7 linked regions of the Homo sapiens genome follow. The protein of the gene in region 7 purifies or fractionates together with the protein of the main gene of each other region. This does not show direct contact. Each region holds a gene or a part of one and is shown on either strand. Other genes may lie near its edges. The genes, in order: ADCY9, TUSC2, AREL1, TMEM201, ADCK2, CREB3L2 and SLC27A6.

Region 1 (3,500 bases), on a different chromosome or scaffold from region 7:
CCCTTCCTGTTTCAAAAACTCTCATCTCTTCACAAAATTCCCTCCAGGGATGCTAGTTCCTGTTGGAAAAGGTCTTGAGGTGTGTCACAGGCAAAGTACAAATGATATGCCCAGGGCCAGATGGATGACAGGCCCCTAAGCTCAGCTAGTCCAGAGTCAGGAGGGGACCTGCAGAATTCTAATGGTGAATGATTACACTCTTACAGTTTTGGAATTCCAGCAAAAACACCAATACTAAAATCACCAACCAAGACAAAGACGAGACTTACGGCCCACGCAGGCTTCTGCACACTCTGTGCCCAGACATGGACAGATTAATGTGGGTTGGTTGGTTGGTTTTTTTCCAAGATTACTATTCCACAGCAAAGTACATAGGCAACGCTGACCAATATGCAGAAACATAATTACTATCTCACCAAGCTGGCCAGAAGACAAAAATCTTGAAACTTCTTGACTTGCTCTAATTGTTCCTTCTCCATGTTTCCCTTCCTTAGGCATTCTACCTGAAAAGACAGCCCTCCCTTCCTTCTTCATCCCATTGGCAATTCAGCAAACCTTAACCTTCTCTTGCTTTACCAGAGGTTACTTCTACTCGAAAGCTTGTCTTCAGAATTAACAGCTGTGTCCTTGTCACTGTAAGCCAGGTCTCAAAGAGCCTGAACAAATGGTCACTGGGGGCAGCTTGAGTGTCGACTCTACTGCTGTTTTCTGTCTCCCACCCCAGCTGTGGAGGGGAACTGTGTGCCTCATCTCATCTCTGCCATTTGCTATCTGAGAGGCTGTATTTCCACGTGCATAACAGATCCTGCTCAAGAATGCAGGTCAAGGCTGGGCGTGGTGGCTCACGCCTGTAATCCCAGCCCTTTGGGAGGCTGAGGCTGGTGGATCACCTGAGGTCAGGAGTTCAAGACCGGCCTGGCCTACATGGTGAAACCCCATCTCTACTAAAAATACAAAAATTAGCCGGGCGTGGTGGCGCACACCTGTAATCCCAGCTATTTGGGAGGCTGAGGCAGGAGAACCGCTTGAACCTGGGAGGCAGAGGTTGCAGTAAGCTGAGATCACGCCATGGCATTCCAGCCTGGGTGACACAGCCAGACTCTGTCTCAAAAAAAAAAAAAAAAAAAAAAAAAAAAGAATGCAGTGCAGGTCAACACAGAATTTCCAAGCAAGGAGACTGAGCTCTGCTAACGGGTTAGCATCCCAGTGGCAAGGGTTGCAGGCTTAGGTGGGGACAAGCTAACGGGGGAAGGAAGGGGAACACCTGAGCATGCAACTGAACCCCAAACCAACACCTGGCTAGGGTTCTGTCAGCTGGCAGGCCCGTGCTCAGGGTTAATGGGGCGCCCAGATTTCCGGCATGAGACAGGTGTTTGTTTGCAGAGGCTAACGCATACAGAATGCCTCCGTCCACTGTCGGTCTGTCGGCCCACCAGACAGGGTCTACATAGGAACTCCTCTAAGGCAAAGGTCTCGATCACAGAGGTGGCCAACAGGTGACAATCTGCCCAAATGCATACCAGCGGGTCTCCTCCCCAAGTTGCTCCACAAGCATAAAGTTTGGCTGGGGAAAAAAGCTTTTTTAATTTCTGCATCTGACAATGTGATCACTCCCTGGTATTCCCCTCTTCAGAGATATGACCATGGGTGTGGATGAGAGCGGAGGAGCATCTTCATTCTGTCTTCCTAATATTTACACGGGAAAAGAAGATGCCTGTAGATATTTTCTAACAGTTTCATTTTCTGTCTTTGTGACCCTGTATCTATGACAGGAAAAGCCAACAGCTCGAGATAACACGTCTCACCATTTTTTGCTTGTGGCCCAAGGCAGAATACAACAGCCACGGTTCCCTCAGGCCTAGCGGTTTCATCCCAAATGCTGTGGAAGGTCCCTCACCTTAATCAGACCGTTTCTTCATTTTTTTTTTTTTTTTTTTTTTTTTTTTTTGGCGACAAAGTCTCGCCCTATCGCCCAGGCTGGAGTGCAATGGCACGATCTCGGCTCACTGCAAACTCCACCTCCTGGGTTCGAACGATTCTCCTGCCTCAGCTTCCCAAGTGGCTGGGACTAAAGGCGCCTGCGACCACACCCAGCCAATTTTTGCATTTTCAGTAGAGACAGGGTTTCACCATGTTGGTCAGGCTGGTCTCAAACTCCTGACCTCCTGATCTGCCCACCTCGGTCTCCCAAAGTGCTGGGATTACAGGCATGAGCCACCACGCCCGGCCCATTTCTCCATATCTTTAATAACTGTCCCTCACACTTTTTTTTTTTTTTTTGAGACAGGGTCTCATTCTTGTCGCCCAGGCTGGAGTGCAATGGTGCAATCTTGGCTCACTGCAACCTCCGTCTCCCAGGTTCAAGCAATTCTCCTGCCTCAGCATCCCGAGTAGCTGGGATTACAGGTACCTGCCACCACACCTGGTTAATTTTTGTATTTTTAGTAAATATGGGGTTTCACCACGTTGGCCAGGCTGGTCTCAAACTCCTGACCTCAGGTGATCCGCCTACCTCGGCCTCCCAAAGTGTTGAGATTACAGGCATGAGCCACCATGCCTGGCCCCTCACTTTTTAGATTATTTCCAAAATCCTAGCAGTATGCTAAAAATTCCTGCAACCTTCTCCCAGTGACTGGCCACCCTAGATAAGATTTCTCACACTCGTACACCCCATCTGCTGTATCCCCTTCCTGCTTTATGTTTGTTCACAAAACACTTTTTCTATTTTACTTATTTATGGTTTGACTCCCCTGTTGTCCCCTCTATTAGATCTCCCCTATTTGAAGGCCTGGTTTTTGTTTCTTAGAGACAGGGTCTCACTCTGTCGCCCAGGCTGGAATGCAGTGGTGCAATCACGGCTCTCTGCAACCTCGACCTCGTGGGCTCCAGCGATCCTCCTATATTATTGACTTAAAAATTCTTGTCCCCTATTACAAGAGCAGGAATTGTTGTCTGTTTTGTTTACGGCTGTATTGCCAGAACCCAGAACCGTGCCTGGCACGGAGTAAATGATTTGCTGAATGAGTAAGCAAGCCAGGGGTTCCGGGCCTCTGTACTCTGCAAGTCCATCCTGCATTCTCCATTCATACCATAGCAACTTCAAAGGCCCCTCACCCATTCCTGACTCCACATTGTCGCCAAGTCACTTCCAGAAACTTAAAATGCCATTTCCCATTCACATGGTCAAGCCCTTCCCCTCCTGCCAGTCGTTTGTTTAAATCTGGCTTGCAGTCCCATCAAGCTGCTCTTCCTAATGCCACTCAGATCCCATCACCTCCATCACTGCTACTGTAACTTTGGATTGGGCCACCATCACCCCTACCTGGGATTTACTCGACACCTCATTAATCTCTTTCCAACCCACACTCACTAGCTCTGAAAGAGTGAACTTTCTAAAACTGCAAGTCAGATCACCTAAGCCCCCTGTTGAGTGGTTCCCTGACACCTATGGGGTCAAATGCAAACTCCTTCCCACGCTACCCATGGCCTTCCTTGTCCTG
Region 2 (3,942 bases), on a different chromosome or scaffold from region 7:
TGGGGGTTCGGGGTTGGGGGGCAACAGTTAGTTGCAGTAGGGGGATCAGCCCAGCCCTGGGTAGAGGGAGAAGCCCCCACCCAGTCCCCACTCCTATCAATAGCCAGCAAACTGTCCATCCATCTGAAGGCGGGAACAAATGGCAGGTAGGTCGGAAGAATCAGGCTGGCACTGCCCCCAGCCTCTGTCCAACACAGGAGGAATCGAGGTAGCAAACGGCTGAAATGCTCTGACTAGGGGTTAAAAGGGAAGTGAAGGAAAGGAAGTTCCTACTTGTATACAGTGCCCACAGCCTAGGGGCTGGAAGAAAGCATACCTTGCTTGTAAAGTGCTGTAGCCTCTAGCAGGGCTAGGCCCCAGGCAAACTTGGAAGAAAGCAGACCAGGCAAGGAACCAGGTAACGGGCATTCCTGACTGGTATATGCCCTGCTGTGCTGCTTGCAGGGGTGGCTTGGGAGAGTGGGGTGCTAACTCTGCCATTAGCCTTCACCACCCACCAACCACCTCTTGTCCACACACAAACCAACACCCAACCAATACTGTGGGACCGACCCGCTCACAGCTGAAGGTTATGGGCCAACAGAGTTTATTCAGGGTTGTGGCCCCAGCCTGGGCTCCTCAATGGAAGCCACACCTTGATTGAGCCTGGGAGTTTCTTGCCGGGGCAGGGGGTGCTTCTGTCTGCCACCTCCCAGGGTCACACCTCATAGAGGATCACAGGGAAATCCACGTGGATGCGGGGGTGATCCAGCTTCACGATGCCCTGCCATGGAAACAGAGGCTAGTAAGGGTCAGCTCAGGGCCTCTACTTCAGGAAGCTTCCTTGTTCCTCCCAGATCCCCCCGCAAAAGCCCCCACCATGACAACAGATCCCATCTGGGTCCACCTCCACACGCTTAGTGTAGGCTCTGTGACCGCTGCCCAGCCCCTCACCTGAGGAATCAGATTCTTATGCACTCGCCTCAGCTTGGCCCGCTTCTGCCCGTTCTTGGTGACGATTGTCTCCTCATAGAACTCGTGAGCCAGATCCCCATCCTCATCATAGAACATAGAGCTGTGTAGAGGGAGAAGGAAACAGGCTGGGCTGGAGCCCCACACCTGGGCATGGCAAATGTCACAGGTCACGGGGAAGTCTGTGGTCTTCCCAACCCCAAGTGGGAAGAAAAGAGGATAATATGCCTGGAGAATCCTTTTTTTAAAAAAAATTTTTCGAGACAGAATCTCACTCTGTTGCCCAGGCTGGAGGTGCAGTGGCGCGATCTCAGCTTGCTGCAACCTCTGCCTCCTGGGTTCAAGCAATTCTCCTGCCTCAGCCTCCCAAGTAGCTGGGACTACAGACATGCACCACCACACCCTGCTAATTTTTTGTATTTTAGTAGAGACGGGGTTTTGCCATGTTGCTCTGGCTGGTCTCGAACTCCTGAACTCAGGCAATCCACTCGTCTTCATCTCCCAAAGTGTTAGGATTACAGGCGTGAGCCACGGTGCCTGGCCTGCCTGGAGAATCCTTTGCCTGGGGTTTGGGGTCTACTAGAAGAAAGTGGGAAGTGAGGTGATGGGTGGGCAGTGCTACTATGTCAGACCCCCAAGAAGAGAGCCCACACCAGAGCACACCATCCAGGCAGCCACCAAGGCCAGTTCTCATCCTTGATTTGTTCAGCAAGGGCAGCCATTCTAATATCAGGACTTTGCCTTCACCCAGGACTTCTAGAGTGGGCAGGGTGGTGGCCTGGGCATGTTGGTCTCACTCCAGAAGATGCTGCTGGCCCAGTGTCAAAGACTGAAATAGCAGAAGCCTAAGCTAGGAAGAAGCACAAAGGAATGAAGGCTGCGTCTCCCCTGACCCCACACCCCAGGTGGCTGGTGAATTGCCACTGTTGGGTCTTCCTGGTGTCTACAGCCAAATCTCTAGCACAGGGAGCGCCCATCTCCAGGAGCCCACTAGAGCCAAGCCAATCTGGTACTCTTGTGCGGGCCTCTGGGAGACTGGGCTGGGGGTTGGGTGGGTAGGTCAGCGCTCTGGATCTGGAGAACATAACTGGGTGAGGGTCTTTTTTCCTCAGCCTCACCCCCAATACTGAGGCCTATCCCTGCTTTCCCAGCCACTACGCTCAAAGGTTCAGCCCCACTACTGTCAGGAAAAGCAGCCTAAACAGAGGGTTATTATCCCCTTGGAATAACTGGGGGGGAAAGGGAGGCTAGGACCCTTCAGTATGCAGGCTGAGCCGGAAGGGATGAAAGGAAGAGATCTTATGGAGGTCTTATGGAGGCCCTAGCTTAGCTTTACCGTGCGGAAGGTCCGACCAGTGACAAGCCTCAGGCCCACTCTTCCCTAGGGAGACTTTCAGAGTGGCCAGGCCGCCAGGAGACCACTGCCCGGCTTTCTCCACCCCCAGCTCCAATGAGGCTCAAAATATGGGGGTCGTCCTGGCTTGGCTGTAGTGGGGTACAGCGGTGGAAGTTCCCCCGTGGCGCGGGACGCCTGGCCGCCCGCCTGTTCCCCCCGCCAGGGTGGAACCCATGCCCTTACCCGCGGCGCGTGAATACGAAGGGGGGCACAGCTCGGCCCCGAGGCCGCACCAAAGCTTGCTCAGCTCCTGCTGCCTCTGAGCCGCCGCCTCCGGCCGCCGAGGCGAAGGGCCACAGGCCCCGAGCTTTGGACCCGCTGGCGCCCATGTCAGGGCCGCCGGCGCATGGCGGGCCCCGTGGCCGCTCTGCTCACACCGCAGTCCGCACTACCATAACCTGCCCCAGCCGCTGATCGCAGGTGCCGCCGCCGCCGCCTTCCGCAGGCTCGGCTGTCTCCACGGAAACCTCACTTCCGCTTCCGCACGCTGCCACCTCTGATTGGCTGTTGCTCAAGTCGTGGGGGCGGGACCAATGGGCGCCCTTAGATGCTGGGCATCCCAGCATGCGTTGCGAGATCCCAGGTCCCAGCAAGCGCGATCTGACCAGCTGGGACAGCTCCCACCGAGGAAAGTGGTGGCCGTGAGTCCTCCCGGTCTTTTGGGTGTATTTGGCGGCTCTGACGTCCCCCAACACCTGAGTTCAGGCCTAGCAGGACTTCGCAAGCACCAATCCTCAAACCTGCACTTCAGGGCCTAAGGCCAGACCGCCGGGTGCCCATCTGGCTTCTATTTTCACAGCTGTATTTTTGCGATTGCCACGCTTATGTGAACTAACCAAGTTGAAAGAAAATTAAGGAACTGGCCAGATTCACATAGTTACATTCAGTTCTGAAGAACTTCGAATTCAGTGTTTTCAAACCCAGCAGAGTCCATGCTTAATGAAAGCAAGAATTGTTAACAGCTATACCCTCGGTATCACGAGCAGTGTCTGGTCCACGGTGGCAGCTCTGTATTTGGTGAAGGAGTTATGCCACACCTTCTCCCAGAGCGTGGTGTGTGTGTGTTGAAGGGATGGTTTTGTTTTTTTTTTTTTTTGAGATGGAGTTTCACTCTTGTCGCCCAGGATAATGTGCAGTGGCACGATCTCGGCTCACTGCAGCCTCTGCCTCCAGGGTTCAAGCGATTCTCCTGCCTCAGCCTCCCGAGTACTTGGGATTACAGGCATCTGCCACCATGCCGGCTAATTTTTTTGTATTTCTAGTAGAGACGGGGTTTCACCATGTTGGTCAGGCAGTCTTGAACTCCGGACCTCAGGTGATCCACCCGCCTTGGCCTCCCAAAGTGCTGGGATTACAGGCCTGAGCCACTGCGCCCGGCCGTTTTTTTTTTTTTTGAGTTGGAGTCTTGCTCTATCGGAGTGCAGTGGTGTGATCTCCACTCACTGCAACCTCTGCCTGCCGGGTTCAAGCGATTCTCCTGCCTCAGCCTTCTGAGTAGCTGGGACTACAAGCGCCCACCACCACGCCCAGCTAAATTTTTTTTGTATTTTTGGTAGAGATGGGGTTTCGCCATGCTGGCCAGGCTGGCCTCGAAC
Region 3 (3,500 bases), on a different chromosome or scaffold from region 7:
AACTACGACTGCCTGAAGGAGATATGTTACTCATAAACAAGCTTTAATGATACCACCTGACATTTAAAATGCACATAACTTCAAATTTAAAGTTTTAAAAAATAATCTGATTTGCCTTTACATCATCACTTTGTTGGAAAGCTGAAGTTGTTTTTTTCTTTTCCTTTTGTTTTAAACAATCCTTGTTTTAGCAATGAAAACATTCTTGCATAAAGAAGTAAAAAATGACTCAAGTCAGTAAGCTGTAGGCAAAAGAACCAAGGAATCCTGGTTTTCAGCAAAGTATGATCTATCCACTAGACATATTTATCCACAAGGCTAGGTTCAGACAGCGAGCCATGCCACACGGAGAATATGGCTGAGAAAACGGGTTTCCAGTCACACCTACCAGAGCCAAACATCACAAACACTTTCTGGACAGGAACCAAGCCTTCTCATTCCTGGGGAATGTAAGAACTATGCCAGTGTCTGTGCAGTGGAGACAGACACACATCAGGTGTTCCTTTTCCATCAGACCAAAGTGACAACAAAAATCATTTCCTTTTAATTCAACAAGCGCTCTATTCCAGGGATTCAATAACAAGAAGTTTCTTCTGTAATCACTATTTACACCTGCCCTACATGGGAGTTCCAAGGGACCCATTCAGTAGATTTGAAGGCCAGTAAGTAAACTGCTCTTCCCTCGATAACATACCTCCAACAAAACTGCCCCAAATTTAGTAGAATCAAATAGAAGAACAGACATATGTAAAGAGAGAAATTTAGGTTTCAGAAATTTAGTATATCTGTCTTTTATAAGTATATCTGTCTTTTATAAGTATATCTATATCTTTACTTAAACAGAGAAATTTAAGTTTCATGAAAAAGATAACCAGATCAGGCATGGTAGCTCATGCCTGTAATCCCAACACTTTGGGAGGCTGAGGCGGGTGTATCACTTGAGTCCAGGAGTTCGAGACCAGCCGGAGCAATATGGCAAAATCCCATCTTTACAAAAAATACAAAAATTAGCCAGGCATGGTGACACATACCTATAGTCCCAGCTATTTGGGAGGCTGAGTTGGGAGGATCACAGCCCGGGAAGATCGAGGCTGCAGTGAGCCATGATCGCACCTCTGCACCCCAGCCTGGGCAATAGAGTGAGACCCTATCTCCCAAACAAAAACAAAAACAAAAACAGTAACCTGCAGAATATAGACATTCAATTGGAAAACTTTGGTATCTGCTGACAGAGATGAAATTTTACCTACCGATTCCAACAAGGCATGTCTGCTGACCTTCAGGGTGACTTTGGAATGTGGTCTTTTCATATGTACCTGCCGAAGCTCTCGCTGGAAAAAGTTCACCTTGTCCTGAAAGGTCTCAGAGCCTCCTGGGGAACAGCAAGATCCATCATTACAGCCTCATTACAAGCCATCTGTGTAGTCCTGCCTCTCCACCCTCATGGATGTGGCTGGGCTCACTACCTTCCCTATAGAATCCCTGTGTAACCTCACCTATGTTCTTATGCAGGGAGCGGATAAAAGTGGCTGCTAGAATGTTCCTCTCCTTACAGCTGAGCTCCACAGGAGGTTGAATGCCATCATCCACCACCAGTGTGAGCAGCTTATGGACAGGGTCAGGACCAAGGTATGAAAACTGGTAAAGAAAAACAAAGAAATTAATCTATAAAACCCTCAAGGCCAGTAAAAGTCCTCCACAGCTCTATCCTGTGTACCAACCAACAACAATAAGTTAGGCTTGTTTTCTCCAAATGAGGACCTACCAGAAATACATTTCATTATTTTTCCCTTCAGTGATTTACATTTCAACATTTAAAATTATTTTAGTCACAGAGACTGCCTTTAGTTAGGACCACCAGCAAAACTACAGACCTTCTAACATAAAATATAAGAAGGGTGATATGTTAAATAGCAATAAATGGCAATACGGTGATATATTAAATAGCAATAGTAAGGATATATTAAACAGCAATAAATGACTACTCCAAACTGATCAGAAGAAAACTATTTTTATAAAATGGCACATTCTAGCCTTTGGGCAAAAGTTTAGATTCCAGAAGCCCAGAAAAGTTAACAACAAACAAACAATGTATTTTAATATATGAGAGTGGTGCTTCTAAAAGGAGTTAGCTTCAGCACACTGGGAGACCAAGCTTGGGCCAGAGTTACAAACATCTTCTCTATTAACTTAGTCTTGAAGGCAAAGGATCACTGTTGAAGTATTCTGAGTTGCTGCTAATTCCTGTTTCTGTAGGCATGCGTCCTTCCAGAATTTATATATTCTTCATGCCATTTAGTGAGGAGATAATGATGCTTTATTTGGCAACGAATCCTGTGTACACTGTGAGATCTTGCAGAAACACTAAAAGTGCTTCTGAGAAAAAATAAAAGGCTGAGATAGTCCAGAGATGAAGCATGCTTGATGTGAACCAGATGTAAGGTTCAGCTTACTTTTGTTCCTGGACACACTCGGAAGGTGTAAAGGCGCCAGGGGATGATCTTCAGGTAGAACTCCTTCACTGAGAATTGCTGGAGGACCAACAGACAGGAAATGAAGTGAATGATAAATAAAAAGGCTCTATTTGGGTATTCTAATTCAAATATCATAGTCCCTATTTACATTTCTCATAACCTTTCCTCTCCATGGACAAAAGTAATAATTTAGTGAGTACTAAAGTCAAATAAATACATTAACTCTCTATTTAAAAAGGCAAATTAAAAATATTACCCTGATGGCCAAGTGTGGATGGCTCACATCTATAATCTCAGCACTTTGGGAGGCCGAGGCAGGCAGATCACTTGAGGCCAGGAGTTCAAGACCAGCCTGGCCAACATGGCAAAACTCAGTCTCTACTAAAAATACAAAAAAATTAGCTGGGTGCGGTAGCTCATGCCTGTAATCCCAAGTACTCGGGAGGCTGAGGCACAAGAATCGCTTGAACCCGGGAGGCAGAGGGTGCAGTGAGCTGAGATTGGACCATGGCACTCCAGCATGGGTGACAAAGTGAGACCCTGTCTCAAAAAATAAAATAAATAAAAAAAATATGACTGACAATGCAGTTTCACACAGAGATATTTCATAATTGTAATACTCAAGTCTTTCTAAATATCTGGGATCAGGTTTTCACTTTATGAGAACAGAATATTTCACCTAGAAACAATCAAAATCTCCTTCTGCTCAGCCCCATGATGCTCAGAATGACTTCCTCCAAGTTACTGGATAGCAAACACCAGCAACCCATACACACTGCTTTATACCTATTTGAATGGTGCCAAGGATCTGCCAGGGAAGGGAGGCAAGATGGGGTGAGCTGGAGTGGAATATGTTGGTGGTATAGGGGAAGGTCCTCACACAAAAAAGTTCATACAAAAGAGGAAAAGACAATGCAAAAATTTTTTAATCTTAAAAAATCCCTTTTATCTGAATGTGCAGGTCAGTTGTTTTCTTGATAAAAAAAAGTTTAAAGAAAATTTCAAACACATACTAAAGAAGACAAA
Region 4 (3,500 bases), on a different chromosome or scaffold from region 7:
TTGGGAGGCCAAGGCAGGCGGATCACCAGAGATCGGGAGTTCGAGACCAGCCTGAACAACACGGAGAAACCCCGTTTCTACCAAAAATACAAAATTAGCCAGGCGTGGTGGCGTGTGCCTGTAATCCCAGCAAAACTTTATCTCAAAAATAAAATAAAATAAAATAAAAATAAAGGGGCTCAGCTCTGAAGAGCTACCCTCTGGTCACTAGTGCCCAGCCTCCTGGGAGGGTTTCCTGAACAAACTCAACACCCCCACCCCCGCCCTGTGGATGCCGCCTCTCACCTGTGCGTGGGTCTGGTCGGCCTCCCGGCGCTTGAACTGGTGGCTGAGCAACAGGGCGCGCAGCTGGCGGTTCTGGTGCTTGATGTAGTACTCCACAGCCGCTTGGCACGGCCGGCACAGCTTGTACATCTGCTCCAGGTGATGCCGGTACACCTCGACCTCCTCGTCATACCTGCCCTGTGGGGTTGGGGGAACAGGCTCGGCATCTGCAGGGGTGGATGAGCTGCCTCCATCTTACAGGTCAGACGTGGAATCAGATCCTGACCTGCCACTTACTAGGGGATGACCGGGGGCAAGTCAACCCCACTTTGAACCTGCTTCCCCTCTGCCCAACAGGACAAATGCCCACTGTGTAGAGCCATGTGGACTACCGGGAGTTAGAGCCAATCCAGGGCAGGGCCCACAAGTGATGGGGACACTAACAAGGTTCTGTTGCTCCAGGGACGCACCCGCAGGCCAGGAGCTCAGGGTCTGCTCCCCAGATGCAGAGCTCCAAGAAGGTGGGTGAACATGGGGGAAGGTGGCTGCGGGCTGACACTGCCTGGAGTGGGGCAGATGGACAACCCCGACTGTGGCGCTTGCCCTTCCGCTTGAATGCTAGAGAGCCCCTGGCCAGGCCTGTCTTTGTGGCAGGTGAAGGTTTCTTTCAGCTTCTGAAATAGCCCAGAAGACAAGTCCCCTCCTTCTCAGCCCTTAGACGTGCAGCACTGCAACTCTCCCTCCCTGTTTCTGAGGAAGCAAACGTTTTGGCCTGCAAGGCCAGGAGGGTCAGGAGTGTGATCCCTTGCTGCGACCAAGCATGCCGAAAAGCTGCCTGGCTGCCAAGTCACCCCTGCCTTCCCCTTCTCGCAGGTTCCCCATCCCTGCCTTGGCCTGAGTTCACCTCTGTTCTCCCTCCCTCCCAGGCTGGACCCCAGGAAAGCCAGTGTCTCTGGGCCCCAGCTGGGACCTGCCTCTTGAGGTGACAGGACTCCCTGGGCTGGCCGAGGGCAGGAAGGAGCAGCCAGTAAGCAAGGCTCTTGGACTCCATGGAGGGCACAGGCAAGGTGAGGCTCCCAGCTCAGCCCAGCTCCTTAATGCCAAGCCTCTCAGCAATGTCTAGCTTCCTCCTCCTCCCAGAAGCCAGTGGCATCCTCCACCAACCCCACAGCAGACTGCCGGGGCCACCAGCAGGCAAGGCTGATTCAGAGAAACAGGACAGAGTGGGTCCAACAGGGCCCCACCTGGAACCCAAGGTCCCTTCCTCCCTCTGCCCAGGGACAAATTCCTCTGGACTGGCAGGTGCTGGGGTTTCCACGGTGTTCCTAGGCTTGGAACCCCGATAGCAGTGACTGTAAGACATGGGGAGAAGCAGCTCAGCTCCAACGGGGTCAGAAGAACTAACACATCCTGGAATGTGCTGGCAGTGGCAAGGATGAGGGGGCCCCTTTGGGCACTCAGAACAGAAAAGCCGCTGTCTAGCAGAGCAGGGGCCAGAGGACCAGAGTCAGCACCCTGCACGTGCCTGTCCCCCGGCTGCTCTAAGCATCCCTGGCCCCAGCCAGGACCCCTGCCCTCCCAACCCGGCCTCACCTCCTCGCGGGGAGCGAAGGCGGCCAGCTGCTTGATCTTGGTGGTCTGGTGGTGGTTGCACCTCTTGCACAGCAGGACTTGGCTGCTCACCCACTGCTGCGGCTGCGAAGGGTCGCGCAGGCTGGGCGCGCTGCTCACCACGTGGTTCAGGTGCTCCAAGTACTGGGCGGGGATCGGCTTGTTGTAGTCGCCGTTCTGCGGGAGAGAGGTGGGACTCGAGGCAGGCAGGCCCTCCCAGCTGGCTCAGGCTTGGTGATGTCCCTGGGGGCCCGCCCCGCTCCAGGCAAGTGATGGTAGATCTCAAACATCTCCATTCTTTTTTTTCTTCTGCACACAACAGCAGCTGCTTTTCTTCTCAAGACACCTCCATGGAACCCAAAGGCCCAGATGCCGAGTGAAGCCACCTAGCCTGAGCACAGAGCAGGGCCTGCAGCCCGCCGCCCACCCACACACCTCTAGCCAGCATCTGTCCTCAGAGCCCTACCCTCTCGGAACTCAGTCTGCAAACCCTGGTCTAGTCCAGGGGACAGCACACTATGACCCGTGGAGGAGCTGCCTGTTTCTGCAATCAAGTTTTATTGGAACACAGCCAGGCTAATTCACTCTTGTATTACCTACGGTGGCTCAGCAGGGTTAGCAGTTGTGACAGAGACCAAATGGCTTCCAAAGCTTAAAATACTATCTGGCCCTTTGCAGAAAAGGTTTGCTAGCCCTGATATAGTACAGAGAATGAGATGCAGAGCCAGAAAGACCTGGGTGTGAACCCCAAATCTGCCACTTTTAGTGGTGTAACCTTGGACAAACTGCCATGGCTCCCTGCGTCGGGTTCCTCCTCAAGTGAGGAGACAGCGCCAGGGCAGTGGTGAGAATCGAGTGAGACAATGTACACGAAACACCATGCTCAGGGCCTGGAGAGGACAGGGTATGAGGGTGTGGGGTCCATGAGCCCCGGGGCAGGGCAGGGACACAGGGTGGTCTCAAGGTGCAAATCTCAAGATCCCCACCCCCGCGTGCCCACCCGTCCGCCTGCCTGTGACCCACACCTCCTGGAAGCCGTTGTACTGCTCGCAGTGGGGACAGTCCCAGCAGTTGCGGTTCCCATAGGGCACCAGCGTATCCTGGTTGCAGAACCAGCAGTTGACCATCGTGTGCGTTGGCTTCATCCTGTGGACCAAGGAAAGAGCGGGTTGGCCTGGAAGACCCCAGCACCTGCTGGAGAGGGACCTCCATGCCCTGCCCCAGGGCCACCAGGGAAAGGGTGCTGGGAGTGGGATCTGGGATCTGGGGATGCAAAGCTGGAGATGCTGGCCCCAGAACAGCAGGAGGAACAAGGGCTCTGAAGGAGAGGAACGCAGACTAGGTACGGCTGCATCCACCCAGGACCAGACAGGGAGGCCACGGCCAACCTGGGCTTCTCAGTCTTCAAGGGGAGGAGGCCAGCTGGAGCCTCAGCAGATCCCTAGGCTCCAGTGCGGCCGCACGGGGACCCAGGGCCACCTGCTCCTGGTGGCCTGGGGCTCACACATGGAGCACAACAGGGGCCAGGGCTGGCCAAACCAGGGCTGACTGGGACCAGGTTCGAGGACCACCCCTCCCCCACGAGGTCCTTGATCCTGGGCTGCAGAAAGGGTGCGCCCCAGGGA
Region 5 (4,116 bases), on a different chromosome or scaffold from region 7:
ATTGATTATGGCAGAAATAATGCTAGATGTTCTCCACCAGAATCATTTCCTTGTCACAAAGGAAGACTGTATTTCCCAAGCTCACAGTTACACTGGGCCCAGGCAGTTACAGCTCTGATCAGTGAACAGGAAAGAAGTGATGTTTGCCACTTCCAGGCCTGGCCACAAAATTTATTACATGACCCTGCATGGCCTCTGCCTCCAATCCACACTGACCCCAGATGACACATGTTGAAGGAGGCAGTGCCAAACTTGGGAAGAAATTGAGTCCCCTGAAACTAGGGAGTAGAGCTCCCTCTCTTGACCGTACGGTGGCTTAGTTCTGTCATCTCAGCACTTTGGAAGGCCGAGGAGGGAGAATGGCTTGAGCCCAGGAGTTCAAAATCAGCCTGGACAACAATGGCAAGACCCTGTCTCTGTTTTTAAAATAATAAAATAAAGAGCTCCCTTTCTCTGCCTCAGTTCACCTGCATAGAACTTTGTTTTTTGTTTTTATTTTTCTTTTGAGATGGAGTCTCACTCTGTCGCCAGGCTGGAGTGCAGTGGCATGATGTCATCTCACTGCAACCTCCATCTTGGGTTCAAGCAATTCTCATGCCTCAGCTTCCTGAGTAGCTGGGATTACAGGCATGCAGCACCACGCCCAGCTAATTTTTGTATTTTCAGTAGAGACAGGGTTACACCATGTTGGCCAGGCTGATCTCGAACTCCTGGCCTCAAGTGATCCACCTGCCTGAGCCTCCCAAAGTCCTAGGATTACACACATGAGCCACCACGCCCGGCCAGAACTTTGATATAAGCAAAAAATTAATTTGTTGCATTAAGCCACTGAGATTTGGATGTTCTTTATCAGCTAGTGTTACCAGCTCTAACACATCACATGAGTTATGACATACCAGAAAATTATTCATTCAACATTTACTAAGTAGCAGCTAATGGCAAGAACTATGTTAGGTGCTATTTACAGCTGAGGGGAGGAGAACTCACCTGTTGGACCATCAGCTTCTCAAATTCCTCCACAATCTCAGGCAAGCTAAGCCACTTGATGCCTGGCAAAACTCCCAGGACTCGGCTGCCAATCTTCATCAGCAGCAGGTCCATATGCACCTGAGCGAGCAGGCCAGGGTGCAACACCTGTCAGAAAGAGGAACCGTGAGACAGGAGAAACCTGCTGGACACATTTTACCCAGCCAGGGCTGGGTCCCACCATCCAAGCAAGAGCCAGGTGGCTTCTTATCAAAGAAAAGAGGATGTGGTCCCGACACCCAAGCAGTTAGTTCACTCCAGACTCAGTTCATTTTCCTCTATCAGACTATTCACACCGCCACTTCAAGCCAATAAATGAAACAGCTTGCATGAAATAAGCACTCAGATATTGGTCAGGCAAATAGAAATAAACGTGGGGGCGATTTGCATGGCGGTTGTTTCTGATCTGGGATAGCTCAGTGGGTAGGTGAGCTGTGAGCTCTCACAACACTTACTTTCACTGCCACGGAGATGAGGTTGGTGGCCTCAGGTTGGTGGCCAGGGACCTGAGCCCGAGACACCCCTGCATTTGATCCAACCAGGTCAGCTTTAGGGAGGAGCAGCCTTTCTAGAAACGACTGGTCTGCGAGATTTTCTGGAGGTTTCCGGCCATTTCCAAGGTATCCAAAGAGCTCTCTCAGCCCACCGACTGCCCCAGTATGTGAGAAGGGCGGCAGACAGGAGGCCCTGCCAAGTCTCTGGACGCTGTCAGTCTCCAGGAAGGCAGTGTTGGCGTATGCTTTGTACACCTGGGCCACGCAGCCTGAGCCCACAGGTTCCCGGTTCTCAAAAGAGAGGATGCTCCCCCAGTCATCCCCAAAAGCCTGCCGAAGGAAGCGCTCAGTGTGAGTCCACGGGTGGGGCGTCACTCGGACATGCAGCTTGGAAAATTGGGCACAGAAAGCCTCCGAAAACAGATCGCGCCGGGTGCTGGCCCACTGGCCCAGTTTGATGTAGGTTGGGCCTGAGGTCTCGGTGGCTTTCAGAAGCAGGTGGAGCCAGAGGGTGGAGACGCTGGGAGCCAGGTAGGTGAGGGGGTAGAGGAGTAGGAGGGGGAAGAATTTCACCAACAGAGCGCCGGCGCGAAGCCAGAGGCGGAGATGCAGGAAGACGCCGCCCAGAGGTCCCGCTCGGGGGAGGCTCTCCGCGGGCCCCGCGCCAGCCGCCCCGCTGCAGCGGACCCTTCGCCGACTCAGAACGTCAGGGGCCCCCTCACCCACGTCCCCGCACAGGGAGACGACCTTGGGCAAAGTGCCCAGCAGAAGCCAGCAGAGCCTGGCATCGCGAGGGCACTCGGAGGGCCTCAGGAGGCTGAGTCCCTGTCTGAGCTCGAAGCACCTCAGGTGCGACAGGCAAACCCTGACGGAGACGCGCCAGGGCGCCACCATCCTCCCGAGGCCCGCGGCCCAGGCGGCCCGCCCTCCACTTCAGAGGCGCCCGCTCAGGCGAGGCTGCGGTGAAGCCGAAGCCCGGCCCTGACCCCGCGGACGGAGCTGCCCATCTGGGCCGGATCCGCGCCCCGCTCCCTCCAGCACCTCGCCGGGCCTCAGGCCGGAGGCCCGCGCCCCGCCCGACACCCGCCGCGCCGCGCCGCGCCGCGCGGAAGGGGCTGTCAGACGGCACCAACTGCGGAACGGGAGGAGCCAGGACCCACGCGAAGCCAGGCCCCGGGCGCCCGCGACCTGAGCGAGGGGGCCGCGCGGGCGGAGGCAGGGGCCGGGCAGCCGCAGGGTCACCGTGCGCCCAGGGGCCAGTATGAGATCGCTGGGGTGGCGGGCACCAGCCCAGGGCGCGGGCGCAGGCGGGGGCCGGGAGGGCGGGGCGGAGCGTGGAGGGCGGGCGGAGCGTCGGGGGCGGAGCGTCGGGGGCGGGCGGGAGTGCAGGTGCAGGGAACCGAGGCACCGAGGGCTGTGGTGGAGCGGAGGGGCGCGGGAGATGGATGGGACGGGTTCGGCCACTAGGTTGAAACCGCCATTGCAAAATTATAACAGATAATGAAAGAGATCTGACCTAACCAACTCCATCTTGCTTCTAACCTCCAAGCTGTCCTTGTTCATTCCTGGGCGTTGGCTGAACTAACTTTGGGAGGAACTTAGTTTATACTTTATAGTTTAAAACAAAGATGATAACAGCCCTTTCTGAAAACAAACCTCCTTCTTGCCTGGGGAATAGACTGTCTTTGTAGGACTAACAAATTAACCAAAAGATTAGAAAGTATGATTTAGGAGTCAGGCAGCAAGGCTACAGTATTCTGACCCTCCCTAAACTGCTAATAAGATCAGTGCTCAAGATATTTTGCAGACCCTGCACTTGATGGATCAACTGACACCTACCAGATCGATAAACCAGGTCATCTGATCTTAGGCCCCCACTCCGGAACTAACTCAGCACAAGAGGACAGCTTCAGTTCCCTAAGATTTCACCTCCGACCCAACCAATCAGCACTCTCGACTCACTGGCCTTCCCCCACCCACCAAGTTGTCCTTAAAAACTCTGCCCAGTGTCCCGCGCAGCCTGATCTGTGTGAATTACTCCTTCTCTATTGCAATGCCCCTGTCTTGATAAATCGGCTCTGTCTAGGCAGCAGGCAAGGTGAACCCGCTGGGCTGTTACAGGGTGGCCGGTGGGGGCAGAGGGCTGGGTGCTGGGCGGTGAGGGTCGGAGGGAGCAGAGGGTCGGTGGCAGAGGCCCGGGCAGCCAGGGTCCCTTGACCCGCCCCTTAAAGAGGACGGCGACCCCAGGCCAAGACCACCCTGCCCTTGAGTCCTGGGTCCTGGGTAGCAAAACGCAAAGGCACCCTCTATGTCCCCCTCCCCATGTCTATCTTCCCACTGACTTCTTCGTATCTTTCATTATTCCAAAGAGCATGGCTGAAAAGTATGAAGGCAGGTTCTGAACACAGGTCCGCTTTTCAGCGGGGGTTGGGTAGGGGGGTGGTGTTGGATGGGGGTAACTGGGCTGCAGGAGTAGGAACTGGATGCTGTGTCCTCGGCTGCATTAATTCGGCAATTGTGTTGGACCTTGGGGAAAGGCTCCGGAAAGGCCATATTCATTCATTCAATAATACTCACTGAGCCCAATAAATATTTC
Region 6 (3,500 bases), on a different chromosome or scaffold from region 7:
AGAGTGTGTACATATGTGTATTGTGGATGTGAACATGAGAGCATGTGTGCATATGTGTTTGTATATGTGCAAGAGTAGCACGTGTGCATGCGTGTGTGTGTAGCAGGAGTGGGTGGGTGGAGTTTGGCCATGCTGAGCATCTCAGCACAACTGCACTTTCACTGTGACCTCCTCCACTTTTCTGCCATCCCTGGTTCTGGATTCTATCCTCTTCCTTCCCCATCTTCCATTGGTAGCGCAATCAGCTCTCAGTCCAGTGACACTTACCTATTAGTGTTCTCTAGAACCTCTACCTTCTTCCGAAGCTCCAAGTTCTCAGTTGAACAAGACTCCACTCTACAAAGGAGGGAGAAAGAAGAAAATTATTATCCATAGAGCAAACACTAAGCTAGGAGCTAGGGTGGAGGTAGGTGGGGATGAGGAAAAGGAGGGTTGGGGGGATCTGCCACCCCATGGAAGTGTGGGAAAGTATTGAAAGAAGGATGAAGAGACTTAAGAAAAAAAAAAAAATAGGCCGGGCACGGTGGCTCACGCCTGTAATCCCAGCACTTTGGGAGGCCGAAGCAGGCGGATCACAAGGTCAGGAGATAGAGACCATCCTGGCCGACATGGTGAAACCCTGTCTCTACTAAAAATACAAAAATTAGCTGGGCGTGGTGGCACGTGCCTGTAATCCCAGCTACTCGGGAGGCTGAGGCAGGAGAATCGCTTGAACCCAGGAGTCAGATGTTGCAGTGAGCCAAGATCGCCACTGCACCCCAGCCTTGTGACAGAGCAAGATCTGTCTCAAAAAAAAAAAAAAAAAAGAAAAATAGAAGGAGCTGGGGCCGGGCGTAGTGGCTCATGTCTATAATCCCAGTAATTTGGGAGGCTGAGGCAGGCAGATCACTTGAGGTCAGGAGCTCAAGAATAGCCTGGCCAACATGGTGAAACCCCATCTCTACTAAAAATGCAAAAATTAGCTGAGCATGGTGGTGTGTGCCTGTAATCCGAGCTACTTGGGAGGCTGAGACAGAAGAGTCACTTGAACCTGGGAGGCAGAGGTTGCAGTGAGCCAAGATCATGCCACAGCACTCCAGCCTGGGCCACAGAGCGAGACTCTGTCTCCAAAAAAAAAAAAAAAAAAGAGGGAGCTGAGTGATGAGTGCCTGAATAATGAAAGATGAATAGTGACAGTACAAAATATGACCCTCTTTTAGGGTGTTACAACCTCTTTCCTCTCACCTCCTCCCTAGTGTTCTCAATGCCCATCATACTTCTCCCTCTATACTACAGTAATCTGGATACTCCCAGCTACACTCTTACCAGGACTGATAAGAAGTGAAGAGACTTAAGCAAAGGGCAGGACGAGAGCCCAGGACTAGGAATCCTGGTGCTGGGGCACGCATGCCCAAAAGAGACAGTAAAGAGACTTTCATAGGAACATCTTGACCCTGGATGCCCATAGAAAATGGTGGGACAGCATGGGACTACAGTCTTCCCACGGTATTCAGGGGGGATTAGTTCCAGAACTCCCCACAGATACCAAAATCTCCAGATGCTCGAGTCCCTGATTAAAAAATGGTGTAGTATTTGTATATAACCTTTACATATCCTCCAGTATATGTTAATCATCTCTAGGTTATTTATAATACCAAACACAATGTAAATACTATGTAAATATGTGTTATCTTGTATTTATAGTTGTATTATTTTTTATTGTTGTAGTTTTTTTTTATTGAGTTGTTTGGTTTTGGCTTTGGTTTTTTGAGACAGAGTCTCACTCTATCATCAAGGCTATAGTGCAGTGGCACAATCACAGCTCACTGCAGCCTCAACTTCCTGGGCTCAAGTGATTCTCCCCTCTCAGCCTCCTGAGTAGCTGGGACCACAGATGTGCACCACCATGCCTGGCTAATTTTTTTTTATTTTTTAGGGGGTCTGGCTATGTTGCCCAGGCTGGTCTTGAACTCCTGAGCTCAAGCAATCCTCTCACCTTGGCCTCCCAAAGCACGGGGATTATAAGAGTGAGCCATCACACCCAGCCTATTGAAGTTTTTTTCTGAATATTTTAGACCCATGGTTGGTTGAATCTGAGGACGCTGAACCCCCAGATATGGAGAGCCAACTATACTTAATGCTGCATTACCAGTACTTAAGTCAGGTGATAGAAGCACTAAACTTTCAATAGTAGCTTTGAGAAACAGCCAGGAACCACCAGCCACTCCTTTCCCCAGATCCACATGAAGTTCATTTCTGGGTCTGGGGCCTCATGCCCATCTTAAAAATATCTTGGTTTGTTAGCTAAAGAACTAACTTCCAGGGCTAAGACAAAACTGTATTTAATTCATCTTTTTCTAACAGCCCGCCTGATATTACAGACTTTTCAAAAGAACAAAGATTGCCTTCAAGTGTTTTTGCAAAAAAAAAAAAACATGAATTGTAGTGGCTGGAAAATAAAGGCTGCCAACCTGACATCTTTCTTTCCCTATGTGCCCTCTCTAGAGCATGAAGGAGTGTGGCCAATGGGGGCTGATTAAGTAGCACTGCTCCTTTCAGCTAAAACAGGGCTTCTCCTGCTAGAAGTTCCAGGAATGTGCAGGAATGTTAATATTTGTATGTGTTTGAAAAGAAGTCTGTGAGGACTCCGGGGTCCTTGGCTGGCAGTGGTATGATTCAAACACCTACTAAGGTACTTTCACTTCTTTCTTGCTTTATTATAGACGTCTCCTCCAAATAACCACTAGGTGGCAGGCAAACCACAGCTGATAAACCACCGGGTTTCCAAGGTGGCCAGAAAGAGGAATTGAACTGCTTCTCCCCGATTCTCCGCACACCCATATTTCCCTGTGCATACTGCCCGATGAACGCAACAGTTTGCCAGCAGGCTTACTTTTTCTCCAGGCTGTCCATGTATTCTTTCTTCTTTCTCCTACTTTCCTGAGCAGAAATCTGAGAGAGAGGAGTGGGAGGAGAATGATTAATTTCCAGCTCTGTAAGTAAACCAGTTAAGATGGGAGGTGGTTAGCGTAGAAGTCACCAAAGCCCTGCTTACTTCTGCAAGCTGCTTGCCATTTGTTTAAGCTGCTGGTTCATTGACTAGTCTGTCCTCCCGGGTTTCTAGCTGCCAAACTCACACCTACTTTCCTACAAACCAGGCCACCAGTAAAATGGACACTGAGTGGCCAGGAGCAGTGGCTTACACCTGTAATCCCAACACTTTGGGAGGCTGAGGTGGGCGGATCACTTGAGGTCAGGAGTTCGAGACCAGCCTGGCCAACATGGTGAAACCCTGTCTCCATTAAAAATACAAAAAAATGGCAGGCGCAGTGGCTCTAGCCTGTAATCCCAGCACTTTGGGAGGCCAAGGCGGGTAGATCACCTGAGGTCAGGAGTTCAAGACCAGCCTGGGCAACATGGTAAAACCCCGTCTACTAAAAATACAAAAATTAGCTGGGCGCGGTGGTGCATGCTTGTAATCCCAGCTAATTGGGAGGCTGAGGCAAGAGAATCGCTTGAGT
Region 7 (3,500 bases):
AGGAGCAATAACCCATACCACAGCGCCTAGGTGTGTAGTAAACTATGTCATCTAGGTTCGTGTAGGTACACTCTATGATGTTCACACAACAACAAAATCACCTAACACATTTCTTTTGTTTGTTTGTTTGCTTTTGTTTTTTGGAGTCTCACTCTATTCCCCAGACCGGAGTGTAGTTGCACGATCTCAGCTCACTGTAATCTCTGCCTCCTGTGTTCAAATGATTCTCCTGCCTCAGCTTCCCAAGTAGCTGGGATTACCAGTGTCTGCCACCACACTCGGCTAATTTTTGTATTTTTAGTAGAGACGGGGTTTTGCCATGTTGGCCAGGCTGGTCTCAAACTCCTGACCTCAGGTGATCTGCCTGCCTCAGCCTCCCAAAGTGCTGGGATTACAGGCGTGAGCCACCACGCCTGGCCCGTCTAACACATTTCTAAGAAAAGTATCCTTGTCATTAAGTGATTCATGACTGTATATACTAGCTAACATCAAATAAGGTTGTAGCTGCAAAATCCAAATGAGATCCCTTATTAAAAGCCCCAGGATTACTCTATAATCATAATAGCAATCATTTAAATACAATAAGATCTACTTAGTACATACCAGGCACTCAGCTAGCCACTTTACAAAAGATGTGTCATTTAATCCTCAGAATTATACTGTGAATCAGATGGTATCATCACCATTTTACAACTAAGTTCAGTGAGATCCAGGGTAACTGATGATATTATCTTTAACCATACAGCCAGGAAGTGGCAGACCATACATGGAATTTGGGTCTGTCTGGCTTACCTCCGTCTGAACCACATGATTCATCTTTCTACCTCAATATACTCTCCCTGGGGGTATAATGATTTAATAGTACACCATCAGAAACATCCAATGAGAATCCAAGAAATCTGAAATTTAATGTGCTAAAAAGAGTATGTTTATATTGTTCACAAATGAGACTCCAGATGCCAACAACACAGTATTTTAAGTATAAAAGTGACTATGATCTAAGCTACATCTTATTACAAAATCTGTTAATCAAAATAGAATTTTTCCATCTTTGGAAAACATATATCTCATTTATATTTGAAGGTATGCCAGAAAGAATGGGTGACTTCTCCAGTGACCTACTTACCGAGCCAATCAACTAAATAGTCTTGGCTTAAAACTTCAGTATCCCAAAGTGGCTTTTTTAAATACAAAAAACTGACTGTTGGTGTTAAAAACAAAAATAAGAAAACAATGCAATTAGTTATTGGCAAGCAAAGTAAAAGCTGGCACAAGTAAAACTGCAAAATTAATTGGTCCTAGTTAAACAACAATTCGGTCAACAGAAAAGCCTGAATGCTCTATCTTGAGAAGTAGCCAGTCCTATGTACTTTAAGACGAATCTCTCAGGAAACCGGCTTTGGAATGTCTCCATTTTTTCAGGGACACTGTGGCCCTCTTGGTTGGCCCTTGTAAACAGAACTTACGGCCTTATCAATTATTAGCAAAACTTGGAGTTTACATTTGCTCCTAGACCCTTTCCTCCCGTAATGAAAACAAGATTAAAATGAGTGCTCAGAAGTAAACCTTTGTGTTTTTATTGTTCCAAGATAGCTGAATAGGAACAGCACCAGTCTATAGCTCCTAGCGTGAGCGACGCAGAAGACAGGTGATTTCTGCATTTCCAACTGAGGTACCGGATTCATCTCATTTGGACTTGCTGGACAGTGGGTGCAACCCACAGAGTGTGAGCAAAGTAGGACAGGGCATCGCCTCACCTGGGAAACACAAGGGGTCAGGGAATTCCCTTTCCCAGCCAAGGGAAGCTGTGACAGACGGTACCTGGAAACTCGGGATACTCTCACTCTAATACTGCACTTTTCCAATGGTCTTAGCAAACAGCACACCAGGAAACTATATCCCGTGCCTGGCTTGGTGGGTCCCACACCCACGAAGCCTTGCTCACTGCTAGCACAGCAGTCCGAGATTGAACTGCGAGGTGGCAGCAAGGCTAGGGGAGGGGAGTCCACCACTGCTGAGGCTTCACTAGGTAAACAAAGCAGTGCGGAAGATCGAACTGGGTGGAGCCCACCACAGCTCAAACCGGGCTGTGTGCCTCTGTAGACTCTACCTCTGGGGGCAGGGCATAGCTGAATAAAAGGCAGCAGACACTTCTGCAGACTTAAACGTCCCCATCTGACAGCTCTGAAGAGAGCAGTGGTTCTCCCAGCAGGGAGTTTGAAATCTGAGAACCGACAGACTGCCTCCTCAAGTGGGTCCCTGACCCACGAGTAGCCTAACTGGGAGACATCTCCCAGTAGGGGCCAACTGACACTGCATACAAGCAGGTGCCCCTCTGAGACCAAGCTTCCAGAGGAAGGATCAGGCAGCAACATTTGCTGTTCTGCAGCCTCCGCTGGTGATACCCAGGCAAACGGGGTCTGGAGTGGACCTCCAGCAAACTACAACAGACCTGCAGCTGAGGGTCCTGACTGTTAGAAGGAAAACTAATAAACAGAAAGGAATAGCATCAACACCAACAAAAAGGACATCCACATGAAAACGCCATCTGTAGGTCACCATCATCAAAGACCAAGGGTAAATAAAACCACAAAGATAGGAAACCAGAGCAGAAAAGCTGAAAATTCTAAAAATCAGAGTGCCTCTTCTCCTTCAAAGGATCACAGCTACTTGCCAGCAATGGAACAAAACTGGATGGAGAATGAATTTGATGAGGTGACAGAAGCAGGCTTCAGAAGACCGGTAATAACAAACTTCTCCGAGCTAAAGGGGGATGTTCGAAACCATCACAAAGAAGCTAAAAACCTTGAAAAAAGATTAGATGAATGGCTAATTAGAATAAACAGCATAGAGAGGACTTTAAATGACATGATGGAGCTGAAAACCATGGCACGAGAACTGCATGATGCATGCATAAGCTTCAGTAGCCAATTTGATTAAGTGGAAGAAAGGGTATCAGTGATTGAAGATCAAATGAATGAAATGAAATGAAACGAGAAGAGAAGCTTAGAGAAAAAAGAGTAAAAAGAAAAAACAAAGCCTCGAAGAAATATGGGACTATGTGAAAAGACCAAATCTACGTTTGATTGGTGTACATGAAAGTGATGGGGAGAATGGAACCAAGTTGGAAAACACTTTTCAGGATATTATCCAGGAGAACTTACCCTACCTAGCAAGGCAGACCAACATTCAAATTCAGGAAATACAGACAACGCCACAAAGATACTCCACAAGAAGAGCAACCCCAAGACACATAATTGTCAGATTCACCAAAGTTGAAATGAAGGAAAAATGTTAAGGGCAGCCAGAGAGAAAGGTCGGGTTACCCACAAAGGGAAGCCCATCAGACTAACAGCTGATCTCTTGGCAGAAACTCTACAAGCCAGAAGAGAATGGGGGCCAATATTCAACATTCTTAAAGAAAACAATTTTCAACCCAGAATTTCATATCCAGCCAAACTAAGCTTCATAAGTGAAGGAGAAATAATATCCTTTACAAA

Evidence for each region.
Region 1: the proteins of SLC27A6 (region 7) and ADCY9 purify together in Homo sapiens (affinity purification with mass spectrometry; one large-scale study listed by BioGRID and IntAct). This does not show direct contact.
Region 2: the proteins of SLC27A6 (region 7) and TUSC2 purify together in Homo sapiens (affinity purification with mass spectrometry; one large-scale study listed by BioGRID and IntAct). This does not show direct contact.
Region 3: the proteins of SLC27A6 (region 7) and AREL1 purify together in Homo sapiens (affinity purification with mass spectrometry; one large-scale study listed by BioGRID and IntAct). This does not show direct contact.
Region 4: the proteins of SLC27A6 (region 7) and TMEM201 purify together in Homo sapiens (affinity purification with mass spectrometry; one large-scale study listed by BioGRID and IntAct). This does not show direct contact.
Region 5: the proteins of SLC27A6 (region 7) and ADCK2 purify together in Homo sapiens (affinity purification with mass spectrometry; one large-scale study listed by BioGRID and IntAct). This does not show direct contact.
Region 6: the proteins of SLC27A6 (region 7) and CREB3L2 purify together in Homo sapiens (affinity purification with mass spectrometry; one large-scale study listed by BioGRID and IntAct). This does not show direct contact.

The regions. Positions count from the first base shown.
Region 1 is NC_000016.10:4,106,443-4,109,942, forward strand, and holds part of ADCY9 (adenylate cyclase type 9), read right to left. Parts: intron 1-3,500. UniProt on the Homo sapiens protein: Adenylyl cyclase that catalyzes the formation of the signaling molecule cAMP in response to activation of G protein-coupled receptors.
Region 2 is NC_000003.12:50,325,424-50,329,365, forward strand, and holds the start of TUSC2 (tumor suppressor candidate 2), read right to left. Parts: upstream 2,801-3,942; 5' UTR 2,677-2,800; coding exon 2,531-2,676; intron 1,055-2,530; coding exon 934-1,054; intron 764-933; coding exon 698-763; 3' UTR 1-697. UniProt on the Homo sapiens protein: May function as a tumor suppressor, inhibiting colony formation, causing G1 arrest and ultimately inducing apoptosis in homozygous 3p21.3 120-kb region-deficient cells.
Region 3 is NC_000014.9:74,671,581-74,675,080, forward strand, and holds part of AREL1 (apoptosis-resistant E3 ubiquitin protein ligase 1), read right to left. Parts: intron 2,532-3,500; coding exon 2,454-2,531; intron 1,639-2,453; coding exon 1,497-1,638; intron 1,373-1,496; coding exon 1,251-1,372; intron 1-1,250. UniProt on the Homo sapiens protein: E3 ubiquitin-protein ligase that catalyzes 'Lys-11'- or 'Lys-33'-linked polyubiquitin chains, with some preference for 'Lys-33' linkages.
Region 4 is NC_000001.11:9,595,411-9,598,910, reverse strand, and holds part of TMEM201 (transmembrane protein 201), read right to left. Parts: intron 3,022-3,500; coding exon 2,901-3,021; intron 2,053-2,900; coding exon 1,858-2,052; intron 463-1,857; coding exon 286-462; intron 1-285. UniProt on the Homo sapiens protein: Critical regulator of angiogenesis and endothelial cell (EC) migration. Promotes the migration of endothelial cells, which is essential for angiogenesis.
Region 5 is NC_000007.14:140,671,629-140,675,744, reverse strand, and holds the start of ADCK2 (uncharacterized aarF domain-containing protein kinase 2), read right to left. Parts: upstream 2,801-4,116; 5' UTR 2,415-2,800; coding exon 1,482-2,414; intron 1,135-1,481; coding exon 988-1,134; intron 1-987. UniProt on the Homo sapiens protein: The function of this protein is not yet clear. It is not known if it has protein kinase activity and what type of substrate it would phosphorylate (Ser, Thr or Tyr).
Region 6 is NC_000007.14:137,901,087-137,904,586, forward strand, and holds part of CREB3L2 (cyclic AMP-responsive element-binding protein 3-like protein 2), read right to left. Parts: intron 2,932-3,500; coding exon 2,873-2,931; intron 337-2,872; coding exon 268-336; intron 1-267. UniProt on the Homo sapiens protein: Transcription factor involved in unfolded protein response (UPR).
Region 7 is NC_000005.10:128,971,988-128,975,487, reverse strand, and holds part of SLC27A6 (long-chain fatty acid transport protein 6), read right to left. Parts: intron 1-3,500. UniProt on the Homo sapiens protein: Mediates the import of long-chain fatty acids (LCFA) into the cell by facilitating their transport at the plasma membrane.